Linked DNA regions of Homo sapiens: region 2 is linked to region 1. The links come from fine-mapping of genetic effects on gene expression. Tissue or cell type: liver. Region 1 holds a variant in brackets; the other region holds the start of a gene. All regions are shown on one strand. Distances are from middle to middle.

Region 1 (4,238 bases):
TGTACACATAAAATTTATTTTTTATTTTTTTTTTGAGATGGAGTCTTGCTCTGTCACCCAGGCTGGAGTGTAGTGGTGCAATTTTGGCTCACTGCAACCTCCACCACCCGGGTTCAAATGATTCTCCTGCCTCAGCCTCCTGAATAGCTGGGACTACAGGCATGCGCCACCATGCCCAGCTAATTTTTGTGTGGTTTTTTTTTTTTTTTTTTTTTTTTTTGAGACAAAGTCTCGCTCTGTCACCCAGCCTGGAGCGCAGTGGCACGATCTCGGCTCACTGCAACCTTCTCCTCCCAGGTTCAAGCGATTCTCTTGCCTCAGCCTCCCAAGTAGCTGGTATTACAGGTGCCCGCCACCACGCCCTGCTAATTTTTGTATTTTGAGTAGAGACGGGGTTTCACCATGTTGGCCAGACTGGTCTCGAACTCCTGATCTCGTGATCCACCCTCACCTCAGCCTCCCAAAGTGCTGGGATTATAGGCGTGAGCTACCACACTCAGCCTAATTTTTGTGTTTTCAGTAGAGACAGGGTTTCACCATGTTGGCCAGGCTGGTCTCGAGCTCCTGACCTCAAGCAGTCCATCTGCCTTGGCCTCCCAAAGTGCTGGGATTACAGGTGTGAGCCACCATGCGCTGCCAAAATTTTTAATTTAATTTGTTTTGTTTTGTTTTGTTTTTGTTTTAAGAGACACAGTCTCAATTGGTCATCCAGGATAGAGTACAGTGGCATAATTATGGCTCACTGCAGCCTTGAACTGGGCTCAAGTGATCCTCCGGCCTTAGCCTTCCAAGTATCTGGGACGATAGGCGTAAGCCACCATGCCCAGCTAATTTTTAAAATTGTTTTTAGAGATGGGTTCTCACTATGTTTCCCAGGCTGGTCTCGAACTCCTGGCCTCAAGCGATCCTCTTGCCCAACTTCCCAAAGTGCTGGATTATAGCCATGAGCGACTACACCCTGTCCGCTTCTATTTTTTTTTTTTTTTTTTTTTTTTGAGAGTCTCACTGCACTCCTGCTGGTCAACATAGCAAGACTGTCTCAAAATAAAGAAAGAATATAATATTTCCCCAGTCTATGATAAATTGTTATGTAGTAGGCCAGGTGCAGTGGCTCACACCTGTAATCCCAGCACTTTGGGAGGCCAAGGTGGGTGGATCACTTGAGGTCAGGAGTTCGAGACCAGCCTGGCCAACATGGCGAAACCCCATCTCTAGTAAAAATACAAAAATTAGCCAGGCGTGCTAGCACACACCTGTAATCCCAGCTACTCGGGAGGCTGAGGCAGGAGAATTGCTTGAACCCAGGGGGCAGAGGTTGCAGTGAGCTGAGATTGCACCACTGCATTATAGCCTGGGCGACAGAGCAAGACTCCATCTCAAAACAAAAATAAAATTAAAAAAAAAGAGTGGGCGCATTGGCTCACCCCTGTAATCCCAGCACTTTGGGAAGCCGAGGCAGGTGGATCACGAGGTCAGGAGTTTGAGACCAGCCTGGCCAAGATAGTGAAACCCCATCTCTACTAAAAATACAAAAATTAGCCAGGCGCAGTGGCGGGTGCCTATAATCCCAGCTACTCGGGAGACTGAGGCAGGAGAATTGCTTGAATCCAGGAGGTGGAGGTTGCAGTGAGCCGAGATTGCACCACTGCACTCTAGCCTGGGTGACAACCCGTCTCAAAAAAAAAAAAAAATTGTTATCTATTAATCGCATTTTGTGGAATACCCTGTGTTTTTTTCTTTTTTTATCAAAGGACAAGAGGAATTTCCTTCGTGACCCTCCGGCTGGCGTGCAATTTAATTTCGACTTTGATCAGATGTACCCCGTGGCCCTGGTCATGCTCCAGGAGGATGAGCTGCTAAGCAAGATGAGATTTGCCCTCGTTCCTAAACTGTAAGCAGAGTGTTCTCCAGCGTTTCCTCATGGCCTCCATTATGTGCTCAGTATCAGCACATAATGATGGAAGGGGCCAAAAGGGTCTCTATCTGTTCATAAAAGCAGGCCCCGCAGCCCTTTGGCAGCTCCCCTGGTCAGGGCACTCTGGAATCAAAACCAAGGTCTGACTTGGCAGGAAATACAGGGTAGAG[G/A]TGAAATGTGCTTTTCTATCCCAGTTACAAGGTAGAACACATTTCCCTACAGAAACCACAAACATGCTGCATCACCCTGAATCACATTCTGGTCTCTGAGGCTCATCGGGATCTTTTTTCCAAGCTGACTGCATTTTCCATTCAGGCTCTGCCCTCCAGTGGCAGTGTTCCTGCTCTCTTTGCTAAGGCTTTTCCTCCAACAGCTCTTCTGGGCTCCACAAATCCCAGCTTGTCCTGTAGGCTCCAGTGCATGCATGATGCATTCTGGAAGCCTGCCTTGGTGGTGCGGCCAACAGGGGCCACCTTCCCCGCTGCTGCTTCCCTTGGGTGTTCTGTCTCAAGCTCTTCCGTGCCTTCTCCAGTCCAGTCCCTTGTATTGAAGCTGTCGCATGTTTGGAGTCAGCGTTCCTTCTTATTCTGTCATTGTTCCCTTTCTCTTAACCTTGTCATATGGGTGCAGTATCTTACTGTTCCCTGAGTACGTTAGTTACAGTTCTCTCAAAAGACTCCTTTTTCAGCTGGGTGCGGTGGCCAATGCCTGTAATCTCAACACTTTGGGAGGCTGAGGTGGGAGGATCACGTGAGGTTGAGTTCGAGACCAGCCTGGGCAACATAGCAAGACCACCATCTTTACAAAGAAACCAAGAATTAGCCGGGCGTGGTGGTGTGCACCTTTAGTCCCAGCTACTCAGGAAGCTGAGGCGGGAGGATCATGTGAGGCCGAGTTCGAGACCAGCCTGGGCAACATAGCAAGACCACCATCTTTACAAAGAAATCAAGAATTAGCCGGGCGTAGTGGTGCGCACCTTTAGTCCTAGCTACTCAGGAAGCTGAGGCGGGAGGAACACCTGAGCCTGGGAGGTCGACGCTGCAGTGAGCCATGATCACGCCACTGGCATTCCAGCCTGGGCAACAGAGTGAGACCCTGTCTCAAATAAAAGACAGACTCCTTTTTCTATGCTGTTTCCTCCCTCGGGACTCTTTTGTTTGTTTGGGGATCTGTCGTTTATGTGGCAGACTCTCCTTACCTGTCCCTTCGCATTAGCAGTGCCATACTGAAAGGGTACATGGCCGCTGAATGTGGGGACAAGCCTTTTGGCCTGGAGAGGCTCAGTAGCTGTGGGAAGGTAGCTTATCCCCAGAGGACTCCTCGGCCTCCTGCCTGGCTGCAGGCAGGACAATGGGAAGAGCCAGTTGATAGGCAGACTATCCCTTGACCCCTGTGGCTTGACCTTGATGTCACACCCCCAGTCTCAACTGTGCCACCGGTCCCTGAGTGTAGAGCAGCTTGGCTCCCCTCCCCACATGGGCAGAGCAGGGCAGGGCAAGATGGGAGGCCCAGGGGCTCTCTGGGCTTCCACCCTTGCTGCAGACAACTCAGTACAGTTTTCTCTGGTCAACGAAGTAGACTACTGTTTGCCTAGGCCGGGTGCAGTTGCTCATGCCTGTAATTCCAGGACTTTGGGAGGCCAAGGCAGGCAGATTGTCTGAGACCAGCCTGGGCAAATAGTGAAACCCTGTTTCTACTTAAAAAAAAAAAATACAAAAAATTAGAGCCTGGTGTGGTGGCACATGCCTGTAATCTCAGCTACTCGGGAGGCTGAGGCAGGAGAATTGCTTGAACCCGGCAGACAGAGGTTGCAGTGCACCAAGATCGTACCATTTGCACTCCAACCTGGGCGACAGAGTGAGACTCTGTCTCCAAAAAAAAAAAAAAAAGATTACTGTCTGCCCTTGACATTTCCACTTGACAGCTTTCCACTTGACTGCCCTTGACAGCGTCCACTGTCCTCTCCTCTCTCATTCTCTTTGTCCTTGTGTTTTTATGTATGTAATTCCTTTTCTGTTACTTTCCTGGCATCTTCAGAGGGAGCACAGATGAACACATGTTTGTTTTGCTATGCTTACCCAGCCACATAGCGGTTTTAACAAATATTTGCTAGCCTTTTGGTTCACACAGCAGCACAGGTTTTCTGTCTGTGAAAACACCACTCTGGAAGTGTTCTTCCAGACTCAGAATAACAGTTATATGGAATCTTTTTTTCTTTGTAGTGAAACTCTTCCCTCCATAATTATTAACATATTAGTGGTAAATTTCTAGAGCCCTCCCCAACCCTCCCATAAGAAAAGTATGTTTTATGGCAAAAAAAAAA
Region 2 (4,238 bases), 32 kb before region 1:
TTTCATTTCTGAAGGCTCCCATGTCACATAAACCTATGATTCAATAAATTATTATGCTTCTCTCTTGTTAATCTGTCTCTTGTTTAAGGCTGTCAGCCGTGACCCTTATGATATCAGCTCTTTCCTCCCCTACATAAGCAATTGCTCATTTTCTGTTTTTTCAAAAACACAAGATACCTTTTTAAAGCACCTTGGATATTTTAGAGACCTTTTGTAAAAATGCAACTTAATACCAAGGGGACACCTAATTCTTCCTACTTTGTTGTTGTTGTTGTTGTTTTGAGTTGGAGTCGCGCTCTGTCACCAGGCTGGAGTGCAATGACACGATCTGGGCTCACTGCAACCTCCGCCTCCCGGGTTCAAGCAATTCTCCTGCCTCAGCCTCCCAAGTAGCTGGGACTACAGGTGCATGCCACCATTCCCAGCTAATTTTTGTATCTTTAGTAGAGACAGGGTTTCACCATGTTGTCCAGGATGGTCTTGATCTCTTGACCTCGTGATCCGCCCACCTCGGCCTCCCAAAGTGCTGGGATTACAGGCATGAGCCACCATGCCCGGCCCTCTACTTCTTTTAAGCACACAAGTAAGTTTAACAAAGTTTCAAAGGTTCAGGGAAAGGCTGGCCCTGTTTTAGATCACTTCCTCCATTGAGGATTGTTTCTGGTGTCAAGACAAGTTTTTCATTTACTCTTACATGCAGTGAGCAGAACCAAGTGTTTATAGGATAGCACAGTGTAGAGCTGTGCTGTCTCCACTACCTAATAAAAAATATTACACAGCCAGGTACGTAATTTTAAGTTTCTAGTAGCCATATTAAAAAAGTAAAAAGAATCAAATGAAGTTCATGTTAATATATGTTATTTAACCCAATGTAGCCAAAAATGTTATCACTTTTAACGCACAATGTAAGAATGTATTAGTGAGATATTTGACATCTTTTTTGTGTACTAAGCTTTCAGAAATCAGGTGCCTGTACTCAGAGCACATCTCAGTACGGATTTTGCCACATTTCCAGTATTCAATAACCACATGTGACCAGTGGCTCCCACATTAGACCAGGCAGGCCTAGAGCAAATAAAAGCACCGGAAGCACCCAGAGACACCTTCTCAGTGATGGCCATTTAAAAAGTAATGTTAGACACAAAAGAGTACTTACCTGATGATCTTGTTCTATGAAGTTCTAGAACAGTCAAAGCTAAGCTATGATAACAATCAGAACCGGGGTTGAGTGCGGGGCCTGGGGTGGATTGACAGAAAGGAGGTACCAGGGAACTTTGCAGGGTGAAGGAAATGGTCAATGTTCACTTTGGGATAATGGTTACAGGAGTGTATAATTTGTCAAATCCCGTCGATTTGCACACTGAAAATGGGACATTTTGTTGTATATAAACCATACATACAATTCTTTTTTATGTTGCCCCCAAAAAAGCTATTCTGTAGCAGCAGCGTAGTTCGGCACTATGCGCCCTAACCATCTAGTACGGGGAAAACGCGGGGGTCGTTGTTTAAGGGGTGCACTGGGACCGGGGAGAGGACAGAAAGGCCATGTTACCGGCGCTGATCACCAGCCTCGCAGACCCCCGCTCGGGGCTTCACTTCCGCCAACGCCATCTCAGGGCTCTCCTGGCTCCCGAGGGCCGGGAGAAGTGGGGATCCGGGTGCGGGCGCTGGCGCGGGCGGAGGCGGGAAGAAGCGCGTCCCGGGGACGCGCGGGACAGGCTCCAACCGCACTGGGCACGGGCCAGCGTTCCCCAGTCCCCGCGCCACACCCGGCAGCCGAGGTCTGCGAGCGCGGGGCTGGCGGCCGGACCCGACTCAGCGCTGGGCAGGGAGCCGGCGCCATCAGAGAGCGGACAAAGGAGCCCGGCCCCACAAGTGCACCGGGGCTGGGGGTGCAGGGCGGAGAGGCCCTGGGGACGAGGGATGGCCCGGGCGCCGAGGCCCTGGGGGTCTGGGACAGGCCCAGAAGGGAAGTTACCTGCGCGGTGGTGGTAGCACCGGGGAGGGTGGCCGGTGGGCACGGCGGGCTCCACCCCGCGGCTGGCCTGGCGCTCACCTGTCGGGCTGGGGAAGGGGTCGCTGCCGGGGCTGTCCAAAGCCGCCCCCGGGATCTTCCCACCGCCCACACGGGCCTCGGGGTGCGCGGCGCCCTCCTCGCCCACCTTCCCCTCTCCTCCCTGCTGCTGGCCCAGCTCACTCACGCTGGTGAGCTTGGGGTTTGCACCCGGGTTTGTGCAATGGTCCAAAACAAGCGCCTAAAAAGTGATTCCTCCAGCACAGGCAGCTCCCGTCACCCTCCGCTCTGGACGCACTGGGCCCCAGGCCTCGCCCAGCCCGGGGACCGCTCCTCCCTCCCGTGGCTCACTTTGCAAAGGCACTTCGAGTGCGCGGGTGAACTCCACGCTTCCCGGGGAACCCCGGCTTCCTGGCAAGCCGAGACCCTCGCTCGGGTCCTCCCGTGCAGATCTCACCCTTGTAAAGAACTTCACTGGTCACAAACGCTTGTGGATCCCCTACTACGCCCCAGGAACTGCAGGAGCGCTCAGGAGAGAAGGAAAAGGAAAGAGAATGCCTGCCTTTGAGGAGCTAGCTCACAGTCTGGTGGGAGGTCCACCCGTCTGTTGGAACCAGTAAGGTTCCCTAGAACAATACTTCTGCAGCAAAGAGTTGCGGGGGTGCAGTGAGGGGAGGAAGGCAATTAAGGCTTCCAAGAGTGACTTTTTTTTTTTTTTTTTTTTTGAGACGGAGTTTCGTTCGCCCTTTTTGCCCAGGCTGGAGTGCAATGGCGCGATCTGGGCTCACTGCAACCTCCGCCTCCCGGGTTCAAGCGATTGTCCCTGCCTCAGCCCCCGGAGTAGCTGGGATTACAGGCGGATGCCAAAAAGCTCGGCTAATTTTGCATTTTTAACAGAAACGGGGTTACATCACGTTGGCCAGGCTGGTCTCGAACTCCCGACCTCAGCTGATCCTCCTGCCTTGCCTCCCAAAATGCTGGGATTACAGGCTTGAGCCACTGCACCCCGCCCAAATACTCTAAAAAGTCACTCTTCGGGTGACTCACGCCTGTAATCCCAGCACTTTGGGAGGCCAAGGCAGGCGGATCACCTGAGGTCGGGAGTTCGAGACCAGCCTGGCCAACGTGGTGTAACCCTGTCTCTACTAAAAATGCAAAATTAGCCAGGTGTGGTGGCACCTGCCTGTAATCCCACCTACTCCGAAGGCTGAGGCAGAGAGAATCGCTTGAACCTGGGAGGCAGAGGTTGCAGTGAGCCGAGATCAGGCCACTGCACTCCAGCCTGGGTGACAGAGGAGACTTTGTCTCAAAAAAAAAAAAAAAAAAGAGTATTGGAGGATGATTGGTGCTGGGAACGGATACAGGAGGTTTTTCGGGTGAAGGCAAGAAGCCAACCACTGAAGGAAGCTAACATGGACAACAGAAGGGTCTGAAGTGAGATGGAAGGTTTTAGGAAAGTGGTGGAAATTTCGCATAACCAGTGTGAGATGCTAGAGCGACAAGTTAGACAAGAGTCACTGAAGACCTAGTGGAGTTTAGAAACCATCATCGTGTAGTGGTGTCCAGCTATAATCTGCTATAATCTGGCAAGGTATCTACAGAAATATAGCTCTTAGTTATGAAACCCAAGTTTCCTGCTTGCATAGAATAGAAGGACAAGAGGGTGAGGAGGTGGAGGGCACAGAAAGACTGCGATTGCAGTGATGGGCCAGAGCTCTAGTCCTAGAGGACAGGAACTGTTAATAAAACCAGCGGGGAGCTGATGGACTGGGAGACAGATGAGAGAAGGGCTCCAAGGCCAGGGCCTCTGAGGAGAGGACTGGCAAACTGGCAGCAGAGAGTGTGGTGCTGGAGTTCAGGCCTTCAAATGGATATTCCAGGAAATGAGACAGTTTGGGGTGTGGCAGCTACAATGGAATAGAAAAGTGAGATGGGCATCACTGGCCTTGGGTTTAGTGCCCACAAGGCTGGTATGTTGGACATCGAGGGTCCCAAAAGGATGGCAGGAGGTGGAGGAGTCAATCGAGGTCAAGGAACTTTAGAGAATTGGGGTTGCGGGGTGGGTAGTGAGCCTGAAACTAATAGATGACTGTGACAAGGAAAGGGAGAAGGTTGCAGAACAAATGTCAGTGCCTTTCAAGACACAATGGAGGCCTGGCGCCATGGCACACCCCTGTAATCCCAGCACTTTGAGAGGCTGAGGCAGGCAGATAGTTTGAGTCCA

Which allele goes with the higher level. Alleles are on the strand shown, and positions count from the first base shown. SD is a standard deviation of normalised expression in the study named.
For the expression in liver of the gene that starts at base 2,313 in region 2, G is the high allele of the variant in region 1 and A is the other (small effect, 0.35 SD a copy in GTEx).

Evidence for each region. PIP is the estimated chance that this variant, and not a neighbour inherited with it, causes the effect. A credible set is the group of variants that fine-mapping cannot tell apart.
Region 2: it holds the start of CTPS2, and the variant in region 1 is the best candidate, but not a certain one, in a credible set for the expression of CTPS2 in liver (GTEx, PIP 0.52).

Annotation. Positions count from the first base shown.
Region 1 is chrX:16,741,950-16,746,187 of GRCh38, forward strand. SYAP1 (synapse associated protein 1) reads left to right here. Exons shown (of 9, transcript NM_032796.4): 5 at 1,752-1,891. Among named protein-coding and RNA genes, the nearest start is that of SYAP1, 24 kb to the left of the region's middle. The variant G/A (reference allele first, on the strand shown) is at 2,086.
Region 2 is chrX:16,710,357-16,714,594 of GRCh38, forward strand. CTPS2 (CTP synthase 2) reads right to left here and starts at 2,313. Exons shown (of 19, transcript NM_175859.3): 1 at 1,979-2,313. RefSeq lists silencers at 1,766-2,035, 2,096-2,185.